Linked DNA regions of Homo sapiens: all the other regions are linked to region 3. The links come from fine-mapping of genetic effects on gene expression. A gene starts in region 3. Each other region holds a variant in brackets. All regions are shown on one strand. Distances are from middle to middle.

Evidence for each region. PIP is the estimated chance that this variant, and not a neighbour inherited with it, causes the effect.
Region 1: its variant is fine-mapped to the expression of PPFIBP1 in tibial nerve (GTEx, PIP above 0.99).
Region 2: its variant is fine-mapped to the expression of PPFIBP1 in testis (GTEx, PIP 0.94).

What each region holds. Positions count from the first base shown.
Region 1 is chr12:27,568,873-27,579,094 of GRCh38, forward strand. PPFIBP1 (PPFIB scaffold protein 1) reads left to right here. Exons shown (of 30, transcript NM_003622.4): 2 at 9,280-9,367. Among named protein-coding and RNA genes, the nearest start is that of PPFIBP1, 50 kb to the left of the region's middle. RefSeq lists an enhancer at 5,144-5,438. The variant C/T (reference allele first, on the strand shown) is at 4,395.
Region 2 is chr12:27,643,622-27,653,843 of GRCh38, forward strand. PPFIBP1 (PPFIB scaffold protein 1) reads left to right here. Exons shown (of 30, transcript NM_003622.4): 5 at 2,441-2,527; 6 at 4,108-4,221; 7 at 6,389-6,520. Among named protein-coding and RNA genes, the nearest start is that of REP15, 48 kb to the right of the region's middle. The variant T/C (reference allele first, on the strand shown) is at 3,820.
Region 3 is chr12:27,518,564-27,528,785 of GRCh38, forward strand. It overlaps PPFIBP1 (PPFIB scaffold protein 1), which reads left to right and starts at 5,643. Exons shown (of 30, transcript NM_003622.4): 1 at 5,643-5,802. RefSeq lists enhancers at 4,460-5,061, 4,959-5,418, 5,665-6,265.

The DNA.
Region 1 (10,222 bases), 50 kb after region 3:
GGCTTTTTGAACTCAAATGTGATAAAAATTTAATTATGCACCCCCTGCCACTTTATTTTATGTCTTCTGAATTCTCTGTTACCACAGAGAAAAAGGTCAGAAACCAGAGTCATAGAGTCATCAGTGATGTCTGCTTCTTCATGCCCCAACTGAATCCCCTAAATGCTTTTCTCAGTTTTACTCTTCCCTGCATTCTCACTGCTAGTTCATGGCCCTGAAACCATAATTGCATCCCCTGCCTCCAAATTCATCCTCTGGTGTGGTCTCCAGAATGATCTTTTTGAAATTCTAATTTGATGTTGATTTTTCTCCCGCTTTAAAGCCTTCTGCAGTGGGCTCTGAACCTTTTTCATCAGGGTACTGCTGTCATCAAACTTGTGAGCATCTCCTTCAGTATGTATATTTATTATAAATAATACACACATTATTGCACTGATATATTAAATACTGTAAACACACCTACAAAGTAGAAGTCTCGTATTATCTTTCATACAACACAAATAGTTGTATGGCTATACATAAATAGTTGGATGGCTGACTATGCCTTCTGGTCTGACTGCTGAGGCACTCTTTAATTCACCCCTCTGCTTTCCTGCCCACTGGCTCTCTGTCAAAAAGTCTCCCTTCCTCATTCTCACATGTTCCTACTCACCTCAATCATTCCTGTGCATATATCTACATTTTTTTGTTTGTTTGTTTTTGAGACGGAGTCTTGCCCTGTTGCCCAGGCTGGAGTGCAATGGTACAATCTCGGCTAACTGCAACCTCTGCCTCCCAGGGGGTTCAAGCAATTCTCCTGCCTCAGCCTCCCGAGTAACTGGGATTACAGGCACTGGCTACCATGCCCAGCTACTTTTTTGTATTTTTTAGTGGAGACAGGGTTTCACCATATTGGACAGGCTGGTCTCAAACTCCTGACCTCATGATCCACCTGCCTCGGCCTCCCAAAGTGCTGGGATTACCGGTGTGAGCCACCGCGTCCAGCCTACATTTTATACAGTTTCCAAGTTTAGATATTTTAGATCCTGTTCTCCATGGTCTTTAGCATTATAGCCTTGATAATTTCTTAATTTTATTGCTTTGACTTCCCCAAATTAATTAAACCATTTACCATCCCTCTAATAATGGATATTCAGATATTTCCAATTAGTTATTGTTATTTAGAGTTCTACAACATCGCCACCGGTGAGAGTTAGGATTTTTTGTGTGTTTTGGTATATGTAAAATGGTAACTCATGGCTGTTTAATATGCATTTTTGGTTACCATTGCAGATGAAATTTTCACCATATATTTATTTTCTTTCCCAATAAGACTAGGATTTCAATTTTTTTCTTAAAATATATACACTTAAATAAAGTTGTATTTTACATACTATATAGTAATCATTCCTTTATCGAATATGCAGTTCTGTTAGCTTCCCTAATAATAAAATAGCTGGATACTATTCTGCCTATTTGTTGGATGAGAAAACTTGAGGCTTAGCTAGGCTAAGTAACTTGACAGATCATATAGCTAAAAGTTGTGGACATGGGGTATTAAAAGTCAGGCTGATTGATTTCAAATTCTACCCTCTAAGTCATCTTGCTTGCTTCCTTTGACAAAAACAATACCTAATGTTTATAATAAAATTATAAAGTACAGATAAACAAAATGAAAAATTAAATCACATTTAATTAATCTGAAATCCTGCCACACAGTAACAACCACTGTCAACATGTTGTCATATGATAGCATACCTCAGAGGGAGACACAAGACCCACTGACTGGGGGTGGGAAGGGTTTTGAAAAAATGTACATAAGGCCAAGGTGGGCAGATCATGAGGTCCGGAGATCGAGACCATCCTGGCTAACACAGTGAAACCCTGTCTCTACGAAAAATACAAAAAAAAATTAGCCGGTTGTGGTGGCGGGCGCCTGTAGTCCCAGCTACTCGGGAGGCTGAGGCAGGAGAATGGCGTGAACCCGGGAGGCAGAGCTTGCAGTTAGCCGAGATGGCACCACTGCACTCTAGCCTGGGCGACAGTGAGACTCTGTCTCAAAGAAAAAAATAAAAATAAAAAAATAAAAAAATAAAATGTGCATATACCTCTCCTTTCATCTCCCCTCCCACATCTCTCTCTAATTAAAGATGTTACTGGTAGTAGACTGCTCTGGGATCTGTGATGAAGGGGAAGAAGAAAGTGTTGAAAACCATATTCTTCCTGACTTTTATGTGTGTGTATATTTATGAAAAAGCAGATCCTTTAGTATATTATGAGGGTCCTTCTGTGTCATGAATTATTGGTAACCACTCCTGTAACCTGGTTCTGCTTAATATTCTGATGGATGTACCTCAGTGTACAAACATTGGATTGTTTCCATTTTTTAATTATAAATATTATAACATTCTTGTGAAAGGAGTATATATTCATCGTTGCTCATTTTTCCAGGTTTTTCTTGTAAGTCTAATAAATGTAGAATGAAGGGCCAAAGGCTATTATATTTTTAGGGCTTTTGATGAGCATTGTCAATTGCCAATTTACCCACCGAAAAAGCATGTATCAATCTGGTCCGTGGTAAAATGAGAGGGAAAATGGGGGAGGAGATGAACCCACCAATCCATTTTTTTTTCCCTCAAACACACATGATGCAGAGAACATGGTTGTAATCTGACAATGAAAATGTGCCTATTCCATGTGGGGCATTTTATGGGAAAGAGTCTCTACTGTTCTTGCTGGGTCAGTAATGATAGAATTCATAATGAGCCAACCCACTTTTCAGACCTATGATGACCTCACTGGGGTGTGTTAGTTCCTGCAGTTCTACCGACATGATAAAGTGTTATATACCAGTGGGCTGAAGTCATTGTTTTTATTCAATCACTATACAAATTTCACATTAGTTCAGAATGGCCTTTCACAATGCTTGTGGGATCTCAGTGGTTTGACTTCATATTTTTTGAGTGATATTTGCAGTAACACATTGGTTAGTGATTTAGTGGAAATACTTGATTTTACAGGATTTCTTAGGTATGGGTGCCTGAATTTTGAGAGTGGCGCAGTCATTTCTCTCACATTTTCAAAAAGATAGAACATATTTCAGGACATTTATAGAATGCTTTTTTCCTCTGAGGACATGATGACTGACTGTAATCCGCAATCTCTGATTTCTACCCTGATGCTTCAAGAAATGTACAAATAATGAGAACATCTACTCTAAAGTTCTTGCCCCCAACTGAATTGAAACCCACTGTTTAAATATATTGTTATGTAATTTTTATGCTATAATTCATATTTTTATATAGTTTTAATACATTGTTATGTAAATTTTGCACTTCAGTCCATATTATTCTCATATAAAATAAAGTTTTAAAGTATTTGCCACAAAGAAAAATTGGTATATAATTGGTATACCAGGAAGCTGAACCATGTTCTTTCCTTCACTAGGCTGCCAGTACAGTCTCACACAGCATATTACTCTACATATGTTTACTTTTATATAAAACTTTATGGCAGACTTTAATCATTTCAGTCAATTCAGTCAAAATTTTCAAAGAATGACAACTTTTGAATTCCACAATTGCTCAGAATCTTTGAATTAGGATTTTACTGTGGAAAATAAAAATAATTTGGCAGTATTGGCAAAGAAAGCAAGCCATTACTAAACACTTCAAATATGATTGCAAAGCAACATGTTAATTTAAAAACATGTGGGCCTGTTTGATGTAATATGTCAATAGATATTGCAAATACTAAAATTTTGCAACCTCGAGGGAAATTGACTACAGTGACTTTTATTTTGGCATGGAAAATGGGTTCACTGAGGACTTTGGGACATGGGATTATCAGATTATTCATTGAGCTAGTATTTACAACACAGTGCTTAGTACTGTGGGAACACAGAAAAAACTGCACACTAAACCCTTTAAAGCATAAGGCATGAATCCCAAGCCCTCATCCATCCTTAGATTTGCAGATATACCATAACATGTAATTTCTTCATCTCTTTAATGTCTATTTATTTTATTGGCTAAGGGCTATCACTTTCTTGTACCACTTGATCTTCACTTTCATTGCTAGGACTGACCGCTGGCTTTTTTCTAACAATCCCACAAAGAAATAAGTTTGAAGTTTGCTCATAAGAGTTACTAGATAGTCAGAAAACAAAGCTTTCTTGGAATGCAGATGTTTATTGGTTGGCTGGGCTCCATGTAACTAACACAGCCCAAGCTTGTGATTTGAATTTGCTTCTCAGCTAAGTTAGCTCTACTTGTCAAGGACTCTTCATCTACAATTTGAAAATGCCAAGCATCTATTTGAAAGAATCTGTTATTTGAGAAACAATGTCTTATTGAGAAAGCAAAACAGACTTTTGGAATATTTAAACAGTGAACATTAATACATGATTAAATACC[C/T]GAATGAATGGGTGGTGGAAATAGTAACGGGTGTTGGCAATGAGAGAAAAGGAAGACTACATAGGGACATAATATGAAAAGGCTTCATGATTTGGGCAAGATCTAAGAAGCCAAAACCATATTTGAGCCACAAATATGGTTTTGAGTGTGTTGCTAGTATAGGTTTTGATGTTGGTAGTAGAGGAGAAAATAGGGTCTTTAACAAAGGGTACAGAATGAGTATGGCCTCAGAAACAGGAGTAGATATGATATACTGAAGAAAAAGCCGGCCATCCTGGAGGCATGAAGACCAAACATGGAAGGAGATGAGGTTGGAAAAGTTAGAAAGACAAGATGTGGAAGGTCTTTAAAGTCAAACTCAAGGATCTAGACTTTACTCTGCAGACATTGAAAACCAGTTGGAGACTAGCGTGATTAAAAAGAAGGTTAAAAGCCGGCGGGTGCAGTGGCCCATGCCTGTAATCCCAGCATTTTGGGAGGCTGAGATGGAAGTACTACTTGAAACCAGGAGTTAGAAACCAGCCTGGGTTACAAAGTGAGACCTCATCAGTACAAAAAAATAAAATAATAAACTAGTCAAGCTTGCACACCTGTATTCCTAGCTACTCAGGAGACTGAAGCAAGAGGATTGCTGGAGCCCAGGCTTTCGAGGCTGTAGTGAGTTGTGATTGTACCACTGCACTCCAGCTTGGATGACAAAGTGAGACCCTGTCTCTTAAAAAAAAAAAAAAAAGCCCAAAACAACAAAAAGATTAAGACCATCTCTGCACATGACTTGGTGATGAGTAATTTAGTGCTATGTTTTCTCTCGATTTATTTGGAATCATATAAACCTATCTTTCAGTACAGAAGGGCACTGAGTCACATTTAGGTGACATATTTCCTCCCAAAATCCCAGAGAACTTCAGGAAGTGGTGGGGGTGATTCAGCAAGGGGACATCTTCCTGACCATGTGATGGTTGTGGCTGGATAGAGCTCTTTTTGCCAGGCTATGAGAACAATCTTTCCGTAAAGTCTGTTGATGCTTACTCAACGTTTTCTCAGATGGAAACTTGGTGGGGGGTAAGACTAGATGGGAACAAACTTGGAAGATTTAGAGTCTCTCTGCTAAGTCTTCCTCCTGAAGCCTTTCTGAAGGGCCTGAACTTCCTGGAGAGGCCTTACTTACCAAGGAAAAGATAGATATTGGTCAGTTAGCTTGATTCTTTGATTACTTATGCTAAAAAATAAAGAATGATAAGCTTTTATATTCCCAGTACCCCAAGATTAGCTCTAATCTTAGATGGGTCTTAAAAGTCCATGGAAGTCCATGTATAGTCTTATTTTTGGTATCTTAACCTAAATTATGCAGAGGTATATTTTACTGGATTGACCTAACATAACTAACAGACCTTTTGAGATTTTATTTTGTATAATTTATAAAATGGAAAGTATTATCAACGTAGCATAAAGATTAAGAAATGAGCTCAGGAGCTGGACTGCCTGGGTTCTGGTCCTGATTTCTCCACTACTTAACCTTGGACAAGTTATTTAACCCCTCTGCCTTGATTATCTCATTTAGAAGGTGGAAATAATTTACTTCTTTCCTAGGATATTTGTCAGAATTAAATGAACAGATTTGTTGTTTATTTACTAAGAGCAAAGCTCTTAAAATATTCCCTGGTATATAAGTTCCCAACGAATATCACAATTAGTGTATCATAAATGAAAAAATTAAAGCAGTTAAAGGTTAAGTGACTTAGGTAATTATCCAGCAACATGACTATACCAGGATTAGCATTTCTTATTTTAAGACAGTCTACTGAAGTAGCAGGCTTTTTAGACCAGAGGTCAGCAAATCTTTTCTTAAAAGGCCAGATATAAACATTTTATACTTGTGGATCTTATGGTCTCTGTTGCTACTACTCAACTCTGTTATTGTGTCTTGGAAAAATCAACCACAGACAAAATGTAAATGTATGGGTGTGGCTGTGTTCCAATAAAATTTTATTTACAAAAACAGGTGGCAGACCCACATTTGGCCTTCTTACAGACCCTTGCTTTAGACACTTAAGTCATATCTGAAAGGAGACTATAGATTCCATTTCATTTTGAAGGCTGAGATATGGCATTATGTATTATGATAAACAGAAACTTTGATTTTTAATGATTGTTTAACATGTTAGTCTCATGATGGTCATACTTTAGGATAGCAAAGGGATTTAGAAAATAAGCAATAGTAACAAATGTGTTTTTTATCTCAAAGAGATCCATAGAAATCACTTATTTAACAGTTGGAGAATTATCTTGGAATTTGAGACCTGAGGTTGTGGGCAGGATGTTAAGAGTTTGTTTGATTAAATGGACCCAAATATAGACTGGTTTCTTTTTTGCTTCTCTATGTATGGGATAGGTTTGTGAGTCAAATAACAAGCTATTTGTATTTATGCTTGTCATTTCACTAAGGGTTTTTCTTCTAGAAATGCTGTTTGCATGGGTTTGGATTTTTTTATGGCTTACTTTTCAGTTCGATAATGTGTTCTTGTTTTCAAATTAAACTTGTCATTGAGATTTTTTGCGAGTGGCTATGTTGGTTAGTTAGTATTTATAGCTTAAGTCTGTTTCTGAGGAAATGACTAAAGTCTCTTCATTTGATCAAAACTGTAGAACAAAGAACATCTTTGACTTACTTAAACAAGTCCTATGATGAAAACTCAAAAAATATAATGGTTCATGTTTATAAATGTTTTTGTGTATTCAGTCCTGGTTAGGCCAAATAATCAGAGCTCTGTGCTGAGGGAGGGATTGAATATACTCAGTGCCTGTTAGTTAATGTGAATTTCTCTGGAGCACATTCAGGCAATACTTATTTTCTCATAATCCTCCTCCCATCTCTGCCCCATCCCCCACCGCTTTTTTTTTCATTTAACATATTGTTTTGAATTGGATTTTATAGAACATAGGTTTTTGTCTTCTTCTTCTTTTTAAACTATTCTACTAATTTTCTCCTTTCTTATTCCTAGCCAAGAGCCCTGATCCAGGTGAAGCGTGTAAACCTTGCACATGGAATTCCCAGCAAAGAGGCTGGTGGGGATCGGGACAGGGCCTGGGAAGTGACTGACTTGCAGAAACCCGCCATGTCTTGTTCTCTGCTGGAGACCTTTGCTTATCCATCTTGTGAACATCTGCAGCCTCCCCCTGCAGCCTAATCTTGCCCTCTTACTGTTGACTCAGTCCTCATGGAAGTGTAGGTGCCCTTCCTTCTGCTCATTACGTTCCAGAGCAGGAGATGAGGGGGCTAAGTAGGGAAGAAGAGAAGGCCCAGCTCCTGTCTGCTCAGACCCGGACTGACCTCTGCCCTGGGGCTCAGGCTGGGACTTGTATTTTACCATAAAGGCCCTATGACAGGTGGCGGTTGGATTTTGGTGTTAGATCAGCTGTGTTGTGGACTGACTGGGATTTTCTGCACTAGATTTTAATCTAATTATTCTTTGGTAACATTGATTGTTTCAGCTCTTTCATAAACAGCTCAAGGCACCACTTCTCCAACTAAATCTTGTGTCTAAGTCTGAAACAGATGAAAGTGAAATCGCTGTGCCCATGGCTGCACATCCACTCACTTCTGCCTCTGCTCTCTGAAGCATCTTAGGGTGGGAGTCCTAGGAGCTCACTTTGAAAACTGCTCATTAACATGACTGTTTACTTTCAGAGCGCACCCTAGTCTTAAAATTGAGCTTGCCTGTTTACATATAATAAGTTGCTTAAAATTTGCTGGGATTGGTGTGTATATATGGGCCATATATGAAGCCAGTGGTAGGAGAAAGAGGAATGGACAGATACTTACCTGATGTGATTTGATGGGGTGTTGAGAAATTCCACGATGAAAATCCACACCCCCATTCATTCCTGAAATGCCATAGCCAGTAATGCATTTTATTTCACTGTTAAGCACCTGCCTTTTCTGAAGCTTTTTTTTTTTTTAATAAAAAATGTCCTCATGAAGGATATCCATTAAGTTGTTGCAACCTTGGAGCTGATCCTTTTGCTTCCCTACTTGATTAAACATCTGGGGTTAATGAATCCTCACAAGGACAGATAGAAGGAAGGAAACAGCCACATCCATACGTCATAATTTTGTCTAGAACTGGCCCTGACTCTTTATGCATTTGTAAAACATGTATGGGAATATCTCTGGTATTTAACTTGGAGACACCTTGCTTTCTCCTTTGGATGCAGTTAGTTCTGAAGTATTTGAAGAGAGGGCATCTCAAAAGGAACGTTCACTGTTCTTAAATATTCTTTTAGTACCAAAATATATTTTATTACTGTATCATGGTGAGGATATATGTTCCTGTATATACTAGTGGGGATTTTCCCCTAAGTATGAGTTATTCAAGAGATAAGAGAATCAAAAATGCAAGTCTGAAAAATAGTGTATGTATTTCTACATATTTTATACAACTTGTTCCTGTTGGACAACAAAATAATAAATTGTGGACATTTCCCATTTTTTTTTACCTTAACGACAAAATATTGCAAAACCGTGGTTCATTCATTTACTCAACAAACATTCATAGAGTACCTACCATGTGCTACTACTACTTTGTGCTATAAAAATTAATGATGGTGGCTTCAGCAGAAAAATTAGTCATCAGGGAATATTTGAGGTTGTCCAGTAACTGAGGAAGGAAGGGAGAGAAGGGTGGAGTGCTGGACGGGGAAGAAGGAAGAAGGAGGATAGGAGAGAAAGGATGAATGGAAGGAAGTCCTTAACACGTTTTGTTGTTTTTAATTACACTCATGTTATCTAGTTTAATATTCTTTATATAATCAGCCATTTGCCACTTTTATTTTTTCTGATGTGCTATAATTTTAACTTGTCGTTTTTGTATTTGTTTCTTTTCAGTATAAAAGAACGTGTGGATCACTTTGCTGAGTACATCCAAGATTTGAAGAACTGAAATAAATCAGCTTTAAACCTGCTTTTTAAAAATGTAAGTGAACTCACTTCTGGCCATGGTTCATTTCAGACTCTCTAAAACCTGCAATTTCCTCTCAGTGTGTGTGAATTTTTTTCCAGGAGTAAAGTTACTTGACTCTAGTGAGTCTACTCATTAAGTCTAGGAGTGTTTGTATCTGCTCGCCCTTTTAAAACCTGTAAATTCTAAGAGTAGTATGAATAACATAGGTGGCTGTAGGATTTAGACGCGGTGTGGCAGGCAGTGAGCAAATCTTCATTTGGCACTGAGAAGGAAGACACAGACTTGGTAGAACATAAAATAAAAAGCACAGCCCTCTTCTCGAGTCCTTCATCACTCTTCACCTCACAGACCATTTCACTACCTTATCTACACCAGCGAGAATTGCTAGTTGACCCATTAATGACCCAGTAGGCTTAGAATATGAGGTATTGGTTTCTCACAGGCATATTTACCCACTTTCTCCCTATTTCTCTTGCTCAGTAATAATAACTACTATTTATTGAGCTTCTACCAAGTGACAGGCATTTGATTAATTCGATTCCATGTTCATTCTACAAATAGTGTTTCTGAATGCTTGCCGTGTACCAGGCATGGCCCTGACACTACTTATTACCTTATCTTCAAGGCACCCTTGCAGGGTAACAGTTAACACTTCAGTGATCTGGATGAGGATCCGAGAGAGGTAAGGAGCGTGCTGACAGTCACCTAGTCAGTGAGTGTGAACTGTCTGACTTTCTCTGATTTGCCATATCCTAAAGCGTGCTTAGATGCTTTTCCTGGCATGGATGTCAATAAGAGATTGGAACCTTCTGGATCATATTCATAATAGGACTGTGATTCTCACCCTTTAAAACCTTGGCTGGAGTC
Region 2 (10,222 bases), 130 kb after region 3:
GAGGTTTTGAGTGACCTGGTAGGTAGAACGTGGGAGTTGAAGGAAGAATAGAGACAATAGGGTATTTACCTAATGGATCTTACTGCCAACATTCTTAATGCAAAGGAAACAAAATTGGCAGAAATATAAACACAGGTGGACAGAACAGTCTTTACCTACTTAAGTTAACACAAGGATATAACATTGATCACTCTTAAATTCTGCCTTATGTTCCTATAGTGACTTTTAATATACTAAACTACCCTTGAGCATTATGAGTGCTTGTAAATATCAATACAGTACTGAGAAAAATAAATATGCTAATTTTGAGCCAATTTTCAGTATCTGTTTCTATTTGGGGCTAATTTTGGAGAACTGGTTTTGGAACACCTCACTTCCATATCATACAAAGTAGCTTGGGAGGAAACATTGCTCTCATCTTGCTATAATTTCCTCCAACCAGAAGAAAGATCAGTTTGTTTGTTTGTTTTCTTAAGACAGAGTCTTGCTTTGTTGCCCAGCCTGGAGTGCAGTGGCGCAAACATGGCTGACTGTAGCCTCCACCTCCTGGGCTCAAGTGATCCCCCTCCCTCAGTCTCCAGAGTAACTAGGACCACAGGCGCACACCACCAAGCTTGGCTAAGTTTTTTTTTTTTTTTTTTTTTTTTTAAGAGATAGGGTCTTGCCATGTTGCCTATGCTGGCCTCAAACTTCTGGGCTCACACAATTCTCAGCCTCCCGAAGTGCTGGAATTACAGGTATGCACCACCACCCTTGGCCAGTTTTACTTTTTGTCCTCACTAAACAGCAGTTTTTTTCTACTTACTGAAATGTATCTGTTTCCAAACTATTGTTACTTGTATGGGATTTTAAAAACAGATGGCTGTTAATGTCCATAATCAAAATAAGGAATTTAAAGCTCTACAGGGCCTGTCTTGGCACTTTCTTAAGATTGAGAACATGCGTTATTCATCCTGGCTCTTTTCCAAAAAACTGCCCTTGAGAAGTTGTGCACAATTTATTTTTATGTTAGTCCCCAGGAATGGAAGTTGTCCAGGCCACTCCATCACACTCTTCATAATACTTGTAATTTAATGCTGGGCACTTCAGTTAACAATATGAGCAGAATTATGCCGTGGTAATTGTAGAGGTATGTGGCAAAGCAGCTGATTTTAAAATTTTAATCCACTCTAAATATGCATTGCACCCTTACTAAATTAGCCTCTGATTCTTAGTGGCCTTTTGGAAAATGTATTCAGTATGCTAAAGTTTTTAGAAAAAACATTCTGAAATTTTCCTTTTCATTCAAGCCCTGTTTTTTTTCTTCCCCCTTCCCAGCACATGACTTTTATTATTCCAAGAATTGATACTAGAAACTGCATTTATTGGAAAGATAGAACAATGGTATCAGTTAATTCTGGAAAAACAGTAGATGTCACATCAGATGTGTCCTGGGCAGTAAAGTTATACAGTTTGTATTTTTTCTGGTTCTAAATCTGAAGGTATTATTTTCTTTTTCAGTTGAACCCTGGGTGGCCCCATCTAACACTTTCGGATTTCAGCTGGCTTTTATTTCTATTGTATTTGAATGAAGAATCAGGAAATTCTATTGGGATTACATTATCTTATGGTTATGTTGAGATTATGAGAGACACCACTTATGCTACTACGTACGTTTCAAAGTGGTGCTTTTAGGTTTTCTGTTCTTTGTGAGCCTCTTTGTGTGTCTTTTTCATGACTTGCATGTGAGGCAGCTGAGGAAGAAACAATCTATACATCGTTTCTCAATCTATACTTCCTTTGGCATTTATACCACGCATAAATATACTGAAACATGATTTTTTTTTAAAAAAGTGTGGGGGGCAGGAGGGAGGGGAAGAAATAGTAAGCATCAATATACACAGAGCACTGAGCCAGATGCTGGGGAGGTTACCAAACGAATTATAGGCTCTGCCCTGGAATAGAAGGTAACGTTATACAAAGAAGCAAACTCACAAGTTAATAAGATCAGGACAAAAAGTGTTAAAATGGAGATAAGTGAGGCTAGTCTGCGCTACCAGGGGAAGTCACTGTGGCCTGAGTGTTTAAGCTTTTGGAGGAAGAGAGACAGACCTCAACAACTCGGGGTGCCCCCTACATACTCACAAAGCTTTGCCTGCCCCTGGGTGTGTGTCTGCTCTCAGTGAAGAATACCAGTATCCACTGTTCCTTGTGGGTCATTATTTTCTGCTTGATAAGAAATTGTTTACTTTGGCAAAACATGCCTATATGCTTAACATGCCTGTCTTACCTCTTTTGTGGTAAATGAACCAAATTGCATTCTCGTATTTTCTGTTTGACAGTGACAGCTGTGCAGATTCAATTCAGGCCCCTTGGACTAAGAACACTTGTGATTTTCATTTATCTACGATATATCATTCTTAGAGAAGATCAGCCTTACCCATATTACTTCCTTTTTCAGACAAATGGACACCTACCAGGGAACGGAGATGTGTATCAAGAAAGGCTGGCACGTTTAGAAAATGATAAAGAATCCCTCGTTCTTCAGGCAAGTGATTTTTAAATACTGTTCTTTCCTTGCAGCATACTTACAAAGCCTTTTAAATTGGGGTGGCAAATTCAGATTGCTTGCAGCAATCAGACTGCTAATAGAAATAAGCCTGATAAGCCATCTGTACACAATAGGGAGTGGTGAGGATTGGGGCAGAATGATGGTGTTTACACCCAGTTTAAAAGGAGCTACCATTAATCATCCTCAGCTCTTGCAGGACCAGTCTGAATACGGGCACAATGTTGTCTGATCTGTTCTTTTTTTTTTTTTTTTTTGGAGGCGGGGTCTTGTTACATTGCCCAGGCTAGTCTTGAACTCCTAGGCTCAAGCAACCCTCCTACCTCAGCCTCCCAAGTAGCTGGGATTACAGGTGTGCAGCACCATGCTTCACTGGATCTGATTTTTAAGTATATTTTAATATATAGCAGAAATTCAGATATATGAATATAGCATAACATCTGAATATATGTAAGTTTATATTTCTGAATCTGAAATCAGAATATATATATTTAATTTTTCAATTTTAAAAATGTTACCCTGTGTGAGACAAAACAAAACAGTGACTAGAACCCTCCTTGTGGGCTAAATTTGAGTTTGCTTCTTCATAATGTTTTAAATGCTTCACAAACATTTTTCTTTGGTATATTGAGCAAAATGAATTGAAGTATATTTACTGAGTGATGATTATTGAGGAAAAACTCAAAGATCTGCTGTAAGCACTAGAGTTGAAGGACTAGCCCAACAGCTCCTCAGGCACCTTTGGGTATATTGAGTTGCCCCCCCTGACTTTGAACACATCTATGATCTGTGTCATCTTCAAAGAGCTCATGGAATTTGAATTCCCTGGGTTTTGTTTTTGTTTTTGTTTTGGACGGAGTCTCGCTCTGTTGCCGAGACGGGAGTGCAGTGGCACAATCTTGGCTCACTGCAACCTCCACCTCCCGGATCCAAGCGATTCTCCTGCCTCAGCCTCCTGAGTAACTGGGATTACAGGCACATGCCCCCACAGCCAGCTAATTTTGTATTTTTAGTAGAGATGGGGTTTCACCGTGTTGGCCAGGCTGGTCTTGAACTCCTGACTTCAAGTGATCTGCCCGCCTCAGCCTCCCAAAGTGCTGGGATTACAGGCGTGAGCCACCGTGCATGCTACCTCTCCCCCCTACCCCTGGCCAGGTTCTTTTTCTTATTCTCCTTGAAGTATCAAATTTTTGATAATTTCTATTTCAAACATTAACTTTGTTTCCTCTCTTATACTATCTCCACGCTGCCCCCTAAAAAGATAACTTCTG[T/C]ACATGCTGTCTTTCATAAATGGTTGAAGTAGCTTTAACCAAAAAGTATTGTACATTCCTAATCTACACGAATTTTCTCCAAATTGTATAGGCCTCCTTAAATCAAATAGCAACATATAAATAGGAATGTGAGGGACCACTGTCTTCTTGGTACTTCTCAGATTTTTTTTTCTTTATAACCGTATGAATGGTAGGATCATTCCTTTTTTTGTTCCATTTAGAGAAATAACGTATGCAGTGGGACCCAAATTCTTTTTCACTCATTGCATTATTTTGCTCTAAATACAGGTAAGTGTGTTAACAGACCAGGTGGAGGCTCAGGGAGAGAAGATTCGAGATTTGGAGTTTTGTCTTGAAGAGCACAGAGAGAAGGTGAATGCCACAGAAGAAATGCTGCAGCAGGTATGTGCAGAGGCCAGAACCAAGATGGGATTTCCCTGCTGAACTATGTGAGATGCTGCATTTCTATGTTGTGTTTGCTCTGATGCAGCAGTAAGTTTCTTGATTCATTTAGACCAGCACATTAAAAAAAAAAAATTGAGAGTAGTAGAGTCTCAAAACACATGCACACAATATAAAGTGTTTATGTAATTAGAATCTGGAACAAAATGTCAATAGGATTGTGGCTTATTTTAATTTTCTTTTTTTGCATTCAGATGGTTTCCTCTCACCCATAGCATGTGTTTTATAATTAAGAAAAAATATAATAGTAAAAAATCTAATAATCCAGTTTAAAAATGGGTAAAATATTTGAATAGACATTTCTCAAAAGAAGACATACAAATGGCAAACAGACATATGAAAAGGTGCTCAACATCATTGCTCATCAGAGAAATGCAAATCAAAACTGTAATGAGATACTATCTCACCCCAGCTAAAATGGCTTTTATCCAAAAGACAGGCAATAAGAAATGCTGGCAAAGATGTGAAGAAAAGGGAACCCTTGTACACTGTTGGTGGGAATGTAAATTCATACAACTGCTATGGAGAACAGTTTGGAGGTTCCTCAAAAAACTGAAAATAGAGCTACCATATGATCCAGCAATGCCACTGCTGGATATATACCCAAAGGAAAGGAAATCAGTATATCGAAGAAATATCTGTGCTCCCGAGTTTGCTGCAGCTCTGTTCACAGCCACCAAGATTTGGAAGCAACTTAAATGTCCATCAACAAATGACTGGATAAAGAAAATGTGGTACTTATACACAATGGAGTACTATTCAACTATAAAAAAGCATGAGATTCAGTCATTTGCAACAACATGAATGGAACTGAAGGTCATTATGTGTGAAATAAGCCAAGCCCAGAAAAACAAACATCTCACGTTCTTACTTATTTGTGGGATCTAAAAATGAAACAATTGAACCCATGGAGATAGAGAGTAGAGGGGTGGTTACCATAGGCTGGGTAGGGTAGTGGGGATGAAGGGAGAGGTGGAGGATGGCGAAGGGGTACAAAATAATAGTTTCCATGAATAAGGCCTAGTATTTAGTAGCACGTCAGGGTGACTATAGCCAATAATAATTTAATTATACATTTGGAAATAAGAATATAACTGGATAGTTTGTAACACAAAGGATAAATGCTTGAGAAGATGGAGACCCCGTTTTCCATGATGTGATTATTACACATTGCATGCCTGTATCAAAACATATACCCCATAAATGTATATTCCTACTATGTAGCCACACAAGTAGAAAAGAAAATATCTAACATATAGGAGAGGCTCTGTAAGGTCATGGATGGAGTATGCACTTGAGCAAAACCTCGTAGGTTTCCATTCCTGCTGTGTTTTTATTTTTTCTTTTTCCCTGTATGACATTAGGCCAGTTCCTAACCTCTCTGTTACTATGTTTCCTCATCTTTTGATTAAGGATAATAAGAATTTCTACCTGATAAGTTTTTTGTGAGGATTGAAATAGTATTTGTTACAACCGGTGCCTGGCACATAGCAAACATAGTATCACCATCATCAATGTTATCATCAGACTGAAGTATATATATGGTTTATGCATGTGTATCTACACAACATATGTCTCCCTCAGTAAACTGACATGTGCTTATTTCTGTTCAAAGGAGGGTAACTAAAGTGAATAGTTCTTTTTTATTTTATTTTATTTTATTTTTGAGATGGAATCTCTGTCTGTTGCCCAGGCTGGAGTGCAATGGTGCGATCTCCGCTCCCTGTAACCTCCGCCTCCTGGGTTCAAGTAATTCTCCTGCCTCAGCCTCTCAAGTAGCTGGGGTTACAGGCACCCGCCACTATGCCCGGCAAATTTTTGTATTTTTAGTAGAGACAGGGTTTCACCATACTGTCCAGGCTGGTTCTCAAATTCCTGACCTCAAGCGATCTGCCTGCCTCGGCCTCCCAAAGTGCTGGGATTACAGGCATGAGCCACTGTGCCCAGCCTCAAGTGAATAATTTTTTAAAAGTGTGTAGATTCAGTAATTATACTTCACTATATCCTCTACTTGATAGGTGCTGCTTTGTGCGATCATAAATGAGGTAAATTCACGTGCCTGTTTATAATAAAAGACTTCTTGAATGTATCTGTTAAATTATAATAGGAGCTTCTAAGTAGGACATCCTTAGAAACTCAGAAGTTGGATCTGATGGCTGAAATATCTAACTTGAAGTTGAAACTGACAGCTGTAGAGAAGGACAGATTGGATTATGAAGATAAGTTCAGAGACACAGAGGTGAGTGATACAGTCTCTCCTCCCTCTCTCTCTCTCTCTGTCACTCTGTCTTTGTCTCTGACACACATACATTCCTAGGGCAAAGTTGAAATTCCCTGGAGGTGTGCAAGGAAGGCAGTTAATTACTACGTACCATCATCCTACTTCATTTTAAGAATAATCTTTCATTGCATTGACTTTTTATCACTAGATGCTAATGGCAATTTTTATTTTTAGACTTTTGATATGAAGTATTAATCTTTTTATTAACCTTTAGAAATACTTTTGACTTTACGATATTTGGAGCATCCGTCCATCCATACTGTTTTTCTTAATTTTGTAAATAATGGGCTTAAATACATGGTTTCACTAGTAGTTATTATTTAGGCACACTGATTATTTACTATGTAATTGGATTTTGAAAATCTGTATAGAAAACATGCTAACATTCTATACTCACAAAATCACAGACAGAGCTTTTTTGAGGTCTTTTAATTTGGCATTCTACTTTTGGTCTGTTCCACATGTAAATCATTCCAATTAAATAAGACTCACTGTACTTCTACAAAAATCAGGGTACATTCTGTAACTTGAAGTATCCATTTTAGTGGCTTAACAAGCTTTATTGTTTGTTCTATTTTGTTAATTCAGGCCTCCTAGTTTGTTTGCTTTGTGACATTTGGCAAGTTCTTAACCTCTCTGTTGGTTTTTGATGGAGACAGAGAGCATATCCATTTGAAACATACATTTGAAATGAAGTATAAAGAGTTGCAGAAATTTCTTTTCTCTGAGAGCCATCTCCCCTCCTTTTTGCTTCCTATTTTGTTTCCTTGGTTGGAGTATGGAAGGGTGTCATGCTGGATTAGAAAATGGGTACCAAGGAGAGAGGAGAGAAAATGGTTTACTTATTTTTCCCTTCTGTTTTTATTTCAATCATGTATTTCACGCTGACTATAAGCCAGCATGATACCAGGCATTACATACATTATCCACCATAGGAAAGTTCTTTATATTGGAAATAACAAGTTTTACTCCACTGCTATTTTCAAAATTAAATTTTCTGTCAAAGATTCAATTACAGTGGAAAGTCTTGGTATATGTCTTGCTTCCTCCATAGCAAAAGGAAGTCTTTCATTTGGTTCATGTTTTAATCTTTTTTTTTTTTTTTAAGAGATAGGATCTTACTGTGTTGCCCAGGCTAGTATGGAACTCCTGGCCTCAAGCAATTCTCCCATTTTGGCCTCCCAAAAGCACTGAGGTTACAGGCATGAGTCACCATGCCCAGCCATGTTTTAATTTTAAAACTCTTTGTCAGTTGCCTGTGTGAGCATGTTTCTCATTTGATAGAAGCTGGGGCTCTTAAAACAGGACTTAGAAAGTTACCCAATTTAAAATTCTTGGTTTTGTATTTTCTCTAAAAATCTCTTTGATATTTTCCTCTTTCCCCTCTTTTTGTCAGGTCCTAACCCCATAGTCGCAGGGTAAAGTAATAGTAAAACTCAGTCAACAGATGGGCAACATGGCAGTGGAGCTAGCTCTGCTGCAGGGAAGAATTGATGGTAGATATGGATAGAGGTGGTCTTCTACATTGCGTCCACAAAGTCAAGGGGAAATATTCACCTGTTGTTAACTTAATTTGTATATGAGATGTTAACCAAATGTTGGGGCTAAATTGCAGTAGATGTGTTACTTATTGTTGTAAGCGCCTAGGGTAATATTTATATCCCTTGAGTTTGGCTGCTTTTTTTAATCAAATCTCTTTTCCCCACTTTTTCATTGTTTCACTCATGCACTCTCAATCACATACAAAGTGATCTTGTCATCAAACTTCCTGTACACTCAATCCCTGATAATCTAATAAAAATTCAGTGTTATTTCTAAAACGTATGCACAGACCCGGAGATTAGAGCATATGTGGTAAACTTTGTGATGTTACATATGAAAATAATTAAAATAATCTTCAACATTAAACTAACTTGAATATTCTCATGTTCTTGTTATCGTCCCCTTAATAAAAATATTTTTCTGGGTGTTTCATGAATCCATAATATTTAACTTTCTCTTAGAATTTTAGATTTATATTTGGATATTAATTTCCAAGAAAATATTGGCATGGGGAAGAAGTATAGGCATTTCCAAAGGACTGAGGGTACAAGTCTTTAAACTTTGGAAGATTCAGGACTTGTCCCTGGAATTGCTAATGGGAGATGATTAGCATCATTCAACAGTGCCCCCTTGTGGTAAGAGCATACATGTCAGAGACTGAGTTCCTGCAGGAGCCCTGAATTCTCTGAAAGGGAAAAGAGAAAGGGAACAGGAATTTTCTTTTTTAAAAGGACTGAACTTCTGATAAGAAATTGATTGAAATAGTTTGTATTCTGTTTTTTAAAGTTTTACATTAGGGAGCCATTTCCAGATTTTCCAGCTTGTGTTGTCAGGGGAAGATGTGATTTATTTCAGGTTGGAAATTTAGACCATATTTAAAGTATTGCCATGAAATATAGTTGAGTAGTTTTTTGTTAAAACAGATAAATTATCCCAGTTTACAATTCCATTTTTTTCAGTGGTTTCTTCTTTGCACGAGCAAAGAAGAAAGGAAGCTGTAAAATACAATAGCAGATAAGAATTCAATGGTATTTCTTAGCAATGAGAAAGTAGGAAAATATATATTTAGAAAGATCATATTGATGAATATCACTAAGGACTCATATTATGCAAGGATGATTAGCTTAGATAACTGGGAAAAGCTGATTTTTTTCTTTAGACTTGAATTCTGACCTGTTAGTTGAGGAATCACAAATATGTTGCTGAATAATGTCAAACAGTTCATGACCTAATTCATAAGAAGAAAATAGATATCATCTAAGTGAAATATTGTGCCATTATTAAGGTGTAATTGTATAACTATGATAGGTAATATTTTGCCCCATTTTATAAGAGACCACAATTTAAAAGCCTAAGGGTTTACTGGGAAGTGTTATTTTATTGTAGCATCCCTTCTCTTAGCCTTTGTGAACTTGAATCATTACACTTGGAAGCTTAAAATAATTTCTATTTACAAAGTTTTATTTCATATAGCATTGTTCTACTTGTAATTTTTGGCATTCGTGGATAATTTTGTCCTGTAGTCTATGAATTTGTGATGCAGGAATACATGCATGTCTTTGTAAAAAGAGAGAAGCTGGCCGGGCACAGTGGCTCACATCTGTAATCCCAACACTTAGGGAGTCCGAGGAGGGCGGGTCACTTGAGGTCAGGAGTTCAAGACCAGCCAGGTCAACATGGTAAAACCCCCGTCTCTACTAAAAATACAAAAATTATCTGGGCATGGTGGTGGGTGCCTGTAATCCCATCTACTGGGGAGGCTGATGCAAGAGAATCACTTGAACCCTGGAGGCGAAGGTCGCGGTGAGCTGAGATGGCGGCACTGCACTCCAGCCTGGGTGACAGAGTGAGACTCCATCTTAAAAAAAAAAAAAAAAAAAAAAGGAGAGGGAGAGAGAAGCAAAAATATAGTAACCATTGTAGGGATCTTTGTGGCTTGTAGTAAAATAAGTCATCTCCCATGCAGGGTATTTGAGTGTCTCTTTTGGAGGAGTTAATATTGCTTAACACTCTAATTTCCTTTCCTACTCTCTGGGCTCTTGGACAAGTTTTGTGAGCAAATTGGTCCTTTAAAAAGTAGCACTAAAATAAAGTGGCAGTAGAAAAGGTGCAGAATTG
Region 3 (10,222 bases):
GTTAATTGTTGAAGAGAATGTAATTTGTTTAGTTTAGTCATTCGTTGAACATTAATCAAAGACCATGAAAACCAATTATCCTTATTTTTAATTAAAATTTTTCAACTTATAAATAGACTAATAAAATGAGTAAGTTGAATGTAACTAGATTTTTAGATGTATCTGGTGGGTAACCAGAGAATAACCAGCACAATTGGGTTGTAAGGAAAAAGTGATTAAAATAAGACTCCCCACTTGGAGCAAGATATTGTGCCTATTTCTAACCTGTCTCTATGGGCAAGAAGGGAATGGGGAGGAGGGTTGGATTCAGAAATGATGTCAATGGTGATAGCTAGGTAGTGGCTTAGTATTCAATGAAAGGATATTAAAATAACGTCTGGATTATCACCAATGCCACGCTTAGGATCAGACAGAATAAGCAGTAATTTCCTTTAGAAGGAATTCTAAAGCTAAGCTTGTTTGATTTGGATTTGGGTTCATGATTTATACCATGTGTTTAACCCACTCTGTGTTTGGCAGTGTGACTGGGATAACAACAACTGGAGGCACCCAGATCCTTTGTGATCAGTCTGGTCAAGTTATTCCTGAACTTCTGAAGACCTAGACCATAGCAGGTTATGAGTTTCAAGCAAAAGACAGCATTCATTCACTTATTCATTCAGTGAATATTTAATCAATGTCTATGGGACAAAACATGGTTCTAGATCCTACAAAGGATGTAAAGATGAAATAAATTAGCATTCTGTTCTTGAGGACTGTAAGAAACTTGGAGCCAGAAAGGAACATAAGGCACCTATAAAAATTATAGTACAATTGTTTTATGTTGTAGGAAAAAGGAAAATATGTTTGCTTATCACCTATGATGTGTCAGGCAAGGTGCTCTGTCATCTTGCATATGACATCTTGTCAGATCCTTGCAACAACACTGTGAGGTAGATTTTTGTAGAAACAGGCAAAAATCACAGTGAGGATGTATTATTAGGAAATATGGGTGCAAAGTCATGCAGTGCATGCAGTGTGGGCATATGAAGAAGAGTCGAAAATAAGTTCAGAAAGGTAAGTTGGGGGCAAGGATGTGAAGGCTTTTGGACACCAGTCAAGAAAGTTTGATGAGTTTTGTTCCTTGGTAAAGGGAGACTCATTTAAGTGTTTAGAGTCAGGAGTGATCAGGGTTGTGCTTTAGAGAGCTGCAGCTGGAAGCCTGTAAAGACCAGACAGGCAAATGCTGTGGATTTGATGAGTAGGGTGAGCCTCTTCTGGTACCTGCATCCAAAGAAAGGGAGGTGTCCTCAAGCCTGCTCAGATTTGGGGATGGTGTAACTAAAGAGTCAGCTTGTTCTGTTACTGCAAAGGGCAGAAGTGAGAGTGTAAATTGTGGACAATCAATGCTTCAGACACAGAAAGACAAAATAGGTTTGGAATCAAATAGACCTTGGTTTCAATCCCAGTTCTGGGGGAATCTGGAGCAATTTACTTGTATAACCCTGGAGAGTGATTCCTCATGTCAAAATGATGCTAATAACACTTACCTTACAGGATGTTTGTGAGGATTAAATGAGACACAAGACAGATGTCTTTGGGGAGAAAGTCAGTAAAGCAGGATCCAGATGGATATGAGAAAGATCCCTTTTTTTTTTTTTTTGAGATGGAGTTTTGCTCTTGTTGCCCAGGCTGGAGTGCAATGGTGCGATCTCGGCTCACCGCAACCTCAGCCTCCCAGGTTCAAGCAATTCTCCCACCTCAGCCTCCCGAGTAGCTGGGATTACAGGCATGCGCCATCACGCCTGGCGAATTTTTTTTCTATTTTTAGTAGAGACGGGGTTTCTCCATGTTGGTCAGGCTGGTCTCGAACTCCTGACCTCAGGTGATCCGCCCACCTCGGCCTCCCAAAGTGCTGGGATTACAAGCGTGAGCCACCACGCCCAACCGAGAAAGATCTTTAATGGTGGGCTGCTTGCTTATTTTGTGTGTTACTGGTTGCCAGATAAGTTCAAGCAGGGGTTGGAAGCTACCTGTAAGGAATGCTGAAGAAGGGTTTCTTGCATTTTAATAGTGGTTGCATCAAATGACTTTTAGGATCCATTTCAAGTTCTAATTGAGCAGGTGTTCTCCTGCTCTGCAGTGTCTCTTGCTCCCTACCCCGCAATAGTGATACTCTTTGGCAAAAAGTTACCAAAGGTAAGGTTAGTCATAGGAATAACTAGGCAGAAAATATCTAGACCTACAGAATAAATTAGCGTTGAAATCATAGGAATCATAAATGATCATTTGCACTAAGCCAGCCAGGAGCCGGGATAGTGAGGAGTAAGTTCTGGCTACCTGCTCATCAGGCATCCTGTCTTGCTTCTGCTGCACTATCCTGATTTTTTTGGAGTTTCCCCAAGACACCCAGAGGCCAGTGATTTCAGTATGTTTATTTAAGGGTTACACTGTCTTCAAAAAATGAAGTATCATGGTGAAGCCTAAATGTAGAGCAGATAAAAGAGCTGTAACTCTGGTTAAAGGGAGGTAGAAGGAGGCTGAAATCTCAACCATTGGTTCCTCCCTCACCCACTCTGTAACCTCTAGCTTGAATGTTACTGCTCCAGACCTGGCCCGTTTTCAGCCTTCCCTTTGAGTCTTTTGTTTTCTGGATTCTGGATGGCAGCTGTTATCACTCCAGCTGCAGAAAGGATGGGAGGCGACTTCCTGTTTTTCTATCCTGCCATCTCTGTGGGGGTGGGACATTCCCTCCCCCATCTCCTGTGGCTGGCTGTAGTTTTGGAAAAATGTGAGCCTGGCTGCAGCCGTCCTGACTAGGGCTGGAGGAATGGCTGGTAGCCACCCAGCCTCCGTTTGAAGGCATCTGGGAGCAAGGCAGGCAACAGACACTGATGGACAAGTTGTGTCCCTGACTGTGGGACAGGGAAGGGTCAGTAGTTAATTAAGAGACAGGTGAAGTAGTTGGTCCAGAAGTGATCTGAGGAAGTTAAGGGTGTTGAACGAACGGTGGGTAGGGGTGTGGGAGAACAGAAGGGCTCTGGCCCTTCTGGCATAAAAAGAGAGAAAGAGAGAGGAAAAAAAGAACAAGAAGAAACAGTTAAAGTTTTTGTCTGAGAGATTATTTGGGGATAGACTGCATTTAAAGAATGGAAGAGAATAGAAATGATACAATGATCTATTTTCTCATGCCCTATATTTTTATTGAGCCTTTTCCTTGAATTGGGTATAAGGAATATAAAGAGGTCCTATAAGCAAGATGCTTGCTCTTCAGAGTTTGGGAAGGCAGGAAAGGCATTTAACTGGACATGTATAACCACATGTTTACACATCTGTACAATCTCAATCCTTATAACAACCTTTAACATAGGTATTGTCAGCCCTATTTTAAAGAGGAGGTAACTGAGATTCGGGATGGATGTTTTAGTGACTTGCCCAAAGTTACCCAATAGCTAAGTGGCAGAGCCAGGCCAAGAACCTTGAGTCCTTTTCTCTGTCCACTGTAACACACAGCTAAGTCTTGGCAGAGGACAAGGACTTTAATTTAATTAGGCTTTGAGAGAAGGGTGGGACTTAACCCACAGAGGAGTGGGGATTTCGGTTAGGCTGAAAGGTGAGAACGAAGCAGGGATCTGTGAGTAGACCTGTTTGACTACAGAGAGGGTTTCCTGGGAGCGAAGTGGGAGATAAGCTGGGAAAGGTAAGAAGCAGGATAAGAGAGAGTTTTAAATGGCTAGATAAGAATTGCAGGGAAAGGGGGACCTGATTTAGAGGGGAAGATGTTGATGACAAAACCAAACATTTTAGAAAACTCATCGGTAGTGAGTGGTACAGAGAAATAATTAGAACTGGGGGAAACTGGAGTCAGAAATTCAAGTCAGGAGTTTGGAATACTGCAGGTCTGACAAGCAACAAGATGGTAATTATATAAAGTAGGTCTGTGAGAGCAGTGGCCCAAGCCTGTGGATTTCTTGTAGCATTCTATTGTTTGAAAAAGTATAAATTATGGACACTCAATACTTGAGATATAGAAAGAAAATCAATGGCTTTGGAGTCAAATAGACCTCGGTTTCAATCCAAGTTCTAGCTGATTTGGAGAAATTTACTTACATAACTTTGCTGAGCCTTTGATTCCTTACGTTAAAATAGGGCTAGTAACACTCAATTTACAGGATGATTGAGAAGATTAAACAAGACACAATGCTGGATTCTGTGCATCCCTCTACAATTTTTGGCAGATCGGTAAATGTATGGCATGTCATCAATCAAAAAACAATGAGGCCTGGTGTGGTGGCTCACGCCTGTAATCCCAGCAGTTTGGGAGGCCGAAGAGGGTGGATCACCTGAGGTCAGGATTTCGAGACCAGTCTGGCCAATATGGCGGAAACCCCGTCTCTACTGAAAATACAAAAATCAGCCGGGTGTGGTGGTGGGCGCCTGTAGTCTCAGCTACTCGGAGGCTGAGGCAGTAGAATCACTTGAACCCAGGAGAAGGAGGTTGCAGTGAGCCAGATCATGCCACTGCACTCCAGCCTGGGTGGCAGAGTGACCTGTTTAAAAAAAGAAGAAAAAAAAGAGAAAGTTATTAATTCACTATATTTTTAGAAGATGGTGGGTTATATGCTACCTATATCTCATACAAATAAAGCTGCTTTTCACCATTCAGGTCTGCCTGTAAGCAGCATCTGCCTTGAAAGAACCATTTTCTGAGAATCTTTTTCTTCTGTCAGCCAAGGGGATTATACCGCATGATATCTGTCAAGGATAAACGTTAGTTAATTCTTAATTGAGAGCTCAGCCACTACAATTGGTTCCATTCTACAGTAATTATTCTCATGTGGTTTGTGGAACTCAATTGTGAGGTCCCTCCTTCCTCCACCCTTTTCAGTGTGTGCATTGAAACAGCAGCCTTAAGGTCTTTAAACGGGGAAATACATTTTTCTTGCTTCAGAGATTCAATTTTACTTGCCCGAGAAGCTTGTGTGGTGTGATTTTCATCGCTAAAAGCAACAGCAGCCACATGGCTGACAACACCACCACTTAACAATTCAAAGCTCGGTCACCGTTTTCAGGAGTCTCTTCCAAATCTTTCTGAAGTGCTTTTGAAGTTCTACATTCCCCGTCTAAGGGAACACCCAGCAGTCCCAGGATAAAAGGGCAGAAGGGTGAGCTGACGTTTTCCTTTATTTGCATGGCTTAAAGCTAGCCATTTTCTACACCACGCGCCGCCGGGCTTGTACATGCCCGTGTGCCTGTGACACCGAGGCAATTGTTTCTCCTTAAAAAGGGGGTTCGCGTGGGTTAGTTTCGTTTCTGATCTGGAATCTCAGTAACTACAACAAGAAAAGTTTAAAACTCGACCCGCCAGGTTCTTCCCCATCGGATTATCTCCGTTCCTTAGAGATAGCAGGAAGGGCAGCATTTTCTTCCATCCACCCACTTCCAGCCCTAGTCTGGCTCAGCGAGGAATGCATAAAATTAGTGGACTCCTCTGAGTGACGTTCCCCGGCTCCAATCAGCGGGCGCGCAGGCGCCCCCGGCCCCGCCCCACTGCTGACTCTCTTTGGCTGATTCCTGCAGGGAGGGAGGAGAGAAGGGCGGCAGTGGGAGGGGGAGGTACCTGGAACTGGGAGTGATGTCAGCTCCCAGCTCGGTGCCTGCCCGGATTCCTGACATGGTGTAGTGCAGGCAGGGTGGGGAAAGGACGGGGAAGGACTCGTGTGCTGCGAGCTGGCGGCCGGGCCGGAGTGCTGGGGCTTTGAACTCCGAGAGGAGGTGGACCAGAACTTTTGGAACTAGTGCCGGCGGCTCTCCACCCCCCAGGTAAGGGCGTTTTGCTCCACTCCCAGACGGGAGGGAAGTGGCACCGTTGTGTGGCTGCAGCTGGCTGTTGCAGCTGCTCCTCCTCTTCCCCGGGTCGATTTCCTTGTGCAACTCACTCCTGTTTCCCAATGGGAACGGGCACTTTTTGGGGGTGGTGGGGGTGGAGGGGTAGGGCTTAACTCCTGGGGCTTGGACCGAGCTTGTACGTGAAGAATACTCCAGGATTGGACGTTTAGGTCTTGTCTGTATCCTTAGACCCCCACACCCTAGGCTCCCGGTAATACCTGAGAACCCCAACCAGAGGGGCGTGTGTGTCTCTCTGTCTGTGTGTATTGAGGCATTTAAAAATGCCACAAAAAATTATGGATCATCGACTCAAAAATTATGCTCGTTGAAAAGAAAAAAAAAGTTTTGTATTTTTTTGTCTCCTTGTGGCCTATTATATATTAAAAGAATATCAATGTTAGTCTTATATATCAATGTAAAATATCCTTTTGTGTAATCCAGTCAGGATGTGAGAAATTCACTTGGGGTGTTTATTAATTATGAGCTTGCGGGAAAACTCGTCTCTTGGGGGCACACTTCTAAAACTGCAACTAGTATTCACTCATTTTAACCGAGAAATCCCTTCAGCTGCCAGCTTTATATCTGGAGAGGTTAGGATGGCTGCTGAGAATCTTCAGATCTGTTTCCTGTGGCTGCTTGAGGGGCGAGCTGGTAGTTGTGTTTTCAGGGATCTTTTTTAGAGAAGGGAGTTTTAACAGGGAAACGCGGTGGAAGGCGTGGCATATAAACTCTTAATTATAGGGACGTGAAGTTTTCAACATGTGGGACCAAAACAAATCCTTGCTTTCAGTAAGAACTGCGGAGAGCAATAGAAAAAGAACTTGATTTCAAAGTCCAAGTTTGGTATTTTGAGAAAGCAATTGCGGGAGGAAAAAGATACTTTTAAGAAGTGAAAGAATAGAATTCTGATTTTTGTTTATTTCCTATTTCAAACCCTGTCTTTTTCCTATGTGGAGATTTTGTGTGCCCAGGTCACTAACTGGGTGTGATTGACTTTCTCGAGGGGGCGGGGAAATTGACTCCATACACCGATTCAGGACCCTCTCATCAGTGCTTTAAGGCTCTCTTTTGGAGCAGGAAGGAAAAAAAAAAAAAAAAAAAAAAAGTAAGCGCTGAGACTCCTGAGTCAAGTTTCCCCTTTCCTTCACCGAAGTTCCTCCTCAGCAGTGAGGATCCTACTGTTGCCAGGTCTGGAGGAAATGGGAGTGGACTTCATTGTGAGTCAAAATCCGTATCCCAGGCCCCTGAAGGGAAAAGGCATTTCCAGGAGATGGAGAAAGAAAGAAGCCACAACAGTAGGTCTAGTAAACCCAAGTCAGGAAAAGGGATAGAGGACTATAGATGGGGTTCTCTATCTTTCTAGCCAAATGATCATTAGGTTTCAGAACTAGAAAGAAGTGTTTGGTTGTGCTGTTGTTTATGACATACCTGGGTCTGTATTGTTGTTAGTTCCTGAAAAAATTAAATAGAGTGGATAAAATAGCAGGCTTTTTGAGAAAGGAAAATTCGCTTTATTGGAAAGACAACATTTTAATTTTGGTTTGTATTTTGGCTTAAGACACAGAAATTGCAAATGGCTCTGCAATAATGGTGAACAAGTCTTTTCTATTTATGTTCTATGGGGAGTACATAAAACATACTGTATTTTCCAGTGTACTTTTTCAGTAGGATAGAGCTGTGGAGTGGAGTTCCTGTGGGCTAATGTGAACTCACGGTAGTGTTCCTTGGCTGATAGTGTTCCAACTGCATTTGTAATACCAAAAGATGGGGCTGCAAAAGCCAGACGGTTCAGTAAAGAAGAGTATCTTTAGGATGTTATCCTTATGTGCCAAATTCAGATTTACACTTTCTTTCCAAGAAACTAGTCCTAGTTTAGGGACTTGAATATACCAAAACTCTAAATTTGATTCACAGTTTGAATAATAGCAGTAATTTTACATACTTAATTTAAACCAATATTTCTCTTTCTCAGTCCATGTTTATGAGGCAGATATGGTGTAGGAAAACACGGAATACTTAAAAGATGTTTGAGTTATTGAGAAAGGTAGGATCAGTTTTTGGTTAAATTCCTGTGACCAACAACTGTCATATTTCCAAGAGCAACTTTAAAAATTAAGGTCGGCCAGGCTTGGTGGCTCACACCTGTAATCCAAGCACTTTAGGAGGCTGAGGCACGCAGATCACCTGAGGTCAGGAGTTGGAGACCAGCCTGGCTAACATGGTGAAACCCCATTTCTACTAAAAATACAAAAAAATTGCCGGGTGTGGTGGTGGGCACCTGTAATCTCAGCTACTTGGGAGGCTGAGGCAGGAGAATCGCTTGAACCCAGGAGGCGGAGGTTGCAGTGAGCTGAGATCTCGTTATTGCACTCCAGCCTGGGCGACTAGAGCAAAACTCCATCTCAAAAATAAATAAATAAAATAAAAATTAAGGTCATCTGGCCTTAATGGATAAATGTTGATTTGAAATCCAGGACACACTGAAGTTCCAGATCAATAGTGCCTAATTTCAAGGGCATCACTGACATTTTTTTGGGAACAAGTTCACCGAGGGACAGTTAATTAACTGTTTATGTAGTCTTTTTGTAGCTCCCTGTTCCACCGTGAGATAAATCAGAACAAGGTCATTTTTCCCCTCAGTTACTGACTAGCTGACTTCTTTTAAAACCTTTCCTATTCATAAAATATTTGTATAAGTAAATTTAGATTATGTTGATAATTTGTTACATTAAAATTAACTTTTCGTTTATATCCCAAACCAGCATAATTTTCAAACTGTTAACTGAAAGAAGACCTCATTCAGCACTCTGTCTTTTCTTTTTTCTTTTTTTTTTTGAGACAGGGTCTCGCTCTGCCGCCCTGGATGGAGTGCAGTGGTGCAGTCTCGGCTCACTGTAGCCTCTGCCTCCCAGGTTCAAATGATCCTCCCACCTCAGCCTTCCCTGGGACTACAGTCATGCACCAACATGCCCGGTTAATTTTTGTATTTTTAGTAGAGGCGGGTTCTCACCATGTTGCTCAGGCTGGTCTTGAACTCCTGGGCTCAAGCAGTCGACCCACCTTGACCTCCCAAAGTGCTAGGATTACATGAGTGAGCCCTGGGTGCCCAGCCTGTCTTTTCAAAGATGTTATTACGTGTCTCTGGCCTAGTTTGAATTACCTTTTCAAAACGATGAAGGAGTGAATTAATGAATGCATATTCATTCATGTTTGGGTCTGTGTCTTGATTCTTTATTAAAGAAACGTCGCTTCAAGGCGAAAACATAGGCAAGAAATGTTGCGTAATGACGTTTTTATTTTCAGAGATTTCCTTAGAAAGTCATATTAGCTCCAAAATTAAGAAAAAAAAAAATCACAGTTGAGCAGCCAGTTGTGAAATCTTTCAGGGAGCCATAATCATAACTATCATGATTATTTTGTTATTTTTAACCGTGGCCAAACAGATGGATTTAAATATGCGAGTCAAAGCTGTTAGGGTTACTGTCTCATTTTGATGCAGGGTATTCTTTGCTTTTTTGTTTGTTTGTTTGTTTTTGAGACAGAGTCGCTCTCTGTTGCCCGGGCTGGAGTGCAGTGGCGTGATCTTGCCTCGCTGCAACCTCCACTTCCCGGGTTCAAATGATTCTCATGCCTCAGGGTCCCAGTTAGCTAGGATTACAGGTGTATACCACAACGCCTGGCTAATTTTTGTATTTTTAGTAGAGACGGGGTTTCACCATGTTAGCCAGGCTGGTCTCGAACTCCTGACCTCAGGTGATCTGTCTGCCTCAGCCTCCCAAAGTGCTGGGATTATAGGAGTGAGCCACCACGCCTGGTTATGCAGGGTATTCTTTGTGAATAAAGGGAACAAAATGTCTTCTGGCCAGCATTTTCTGTTCAACCAAAGGTGGATAACTTCACAATTAAATCAGTTATCAAACTGTCCAAAAACTGCTCTGGGCTCTTGTAATTCAGTGCATCAGTAGTGTGTTATGTCAGTTATTTTTCAAATTTATTGCAGTGCACGTCAGAACCTTCTTCCTAGTAAAAAACAAAACAAAACCCTACAGCTTTTGTCATATATGTCACTGCCGCAAAAATTGATGCTGCGTTAAATGGAGCTCATAAATTTAAAACTAAACTGAATTATTCCACCCTACAAAATACATAGAATCTTTCTTTTACACCCTTCATTTTAGATATAATAATTACTGATGCTCAATTGGTGTTCAGTGATAATGTTTCCAGAAGCCAAGTGGTGAGCATTTTTTTTCCACTTCAAAAAAAAACCTAACATACCAGACAACTGGATTTTAGATAAAAGAAATATGGGTTCTTCTAGGAGTTTTAAGTTTACGCACTTTTTAGGCAGTTT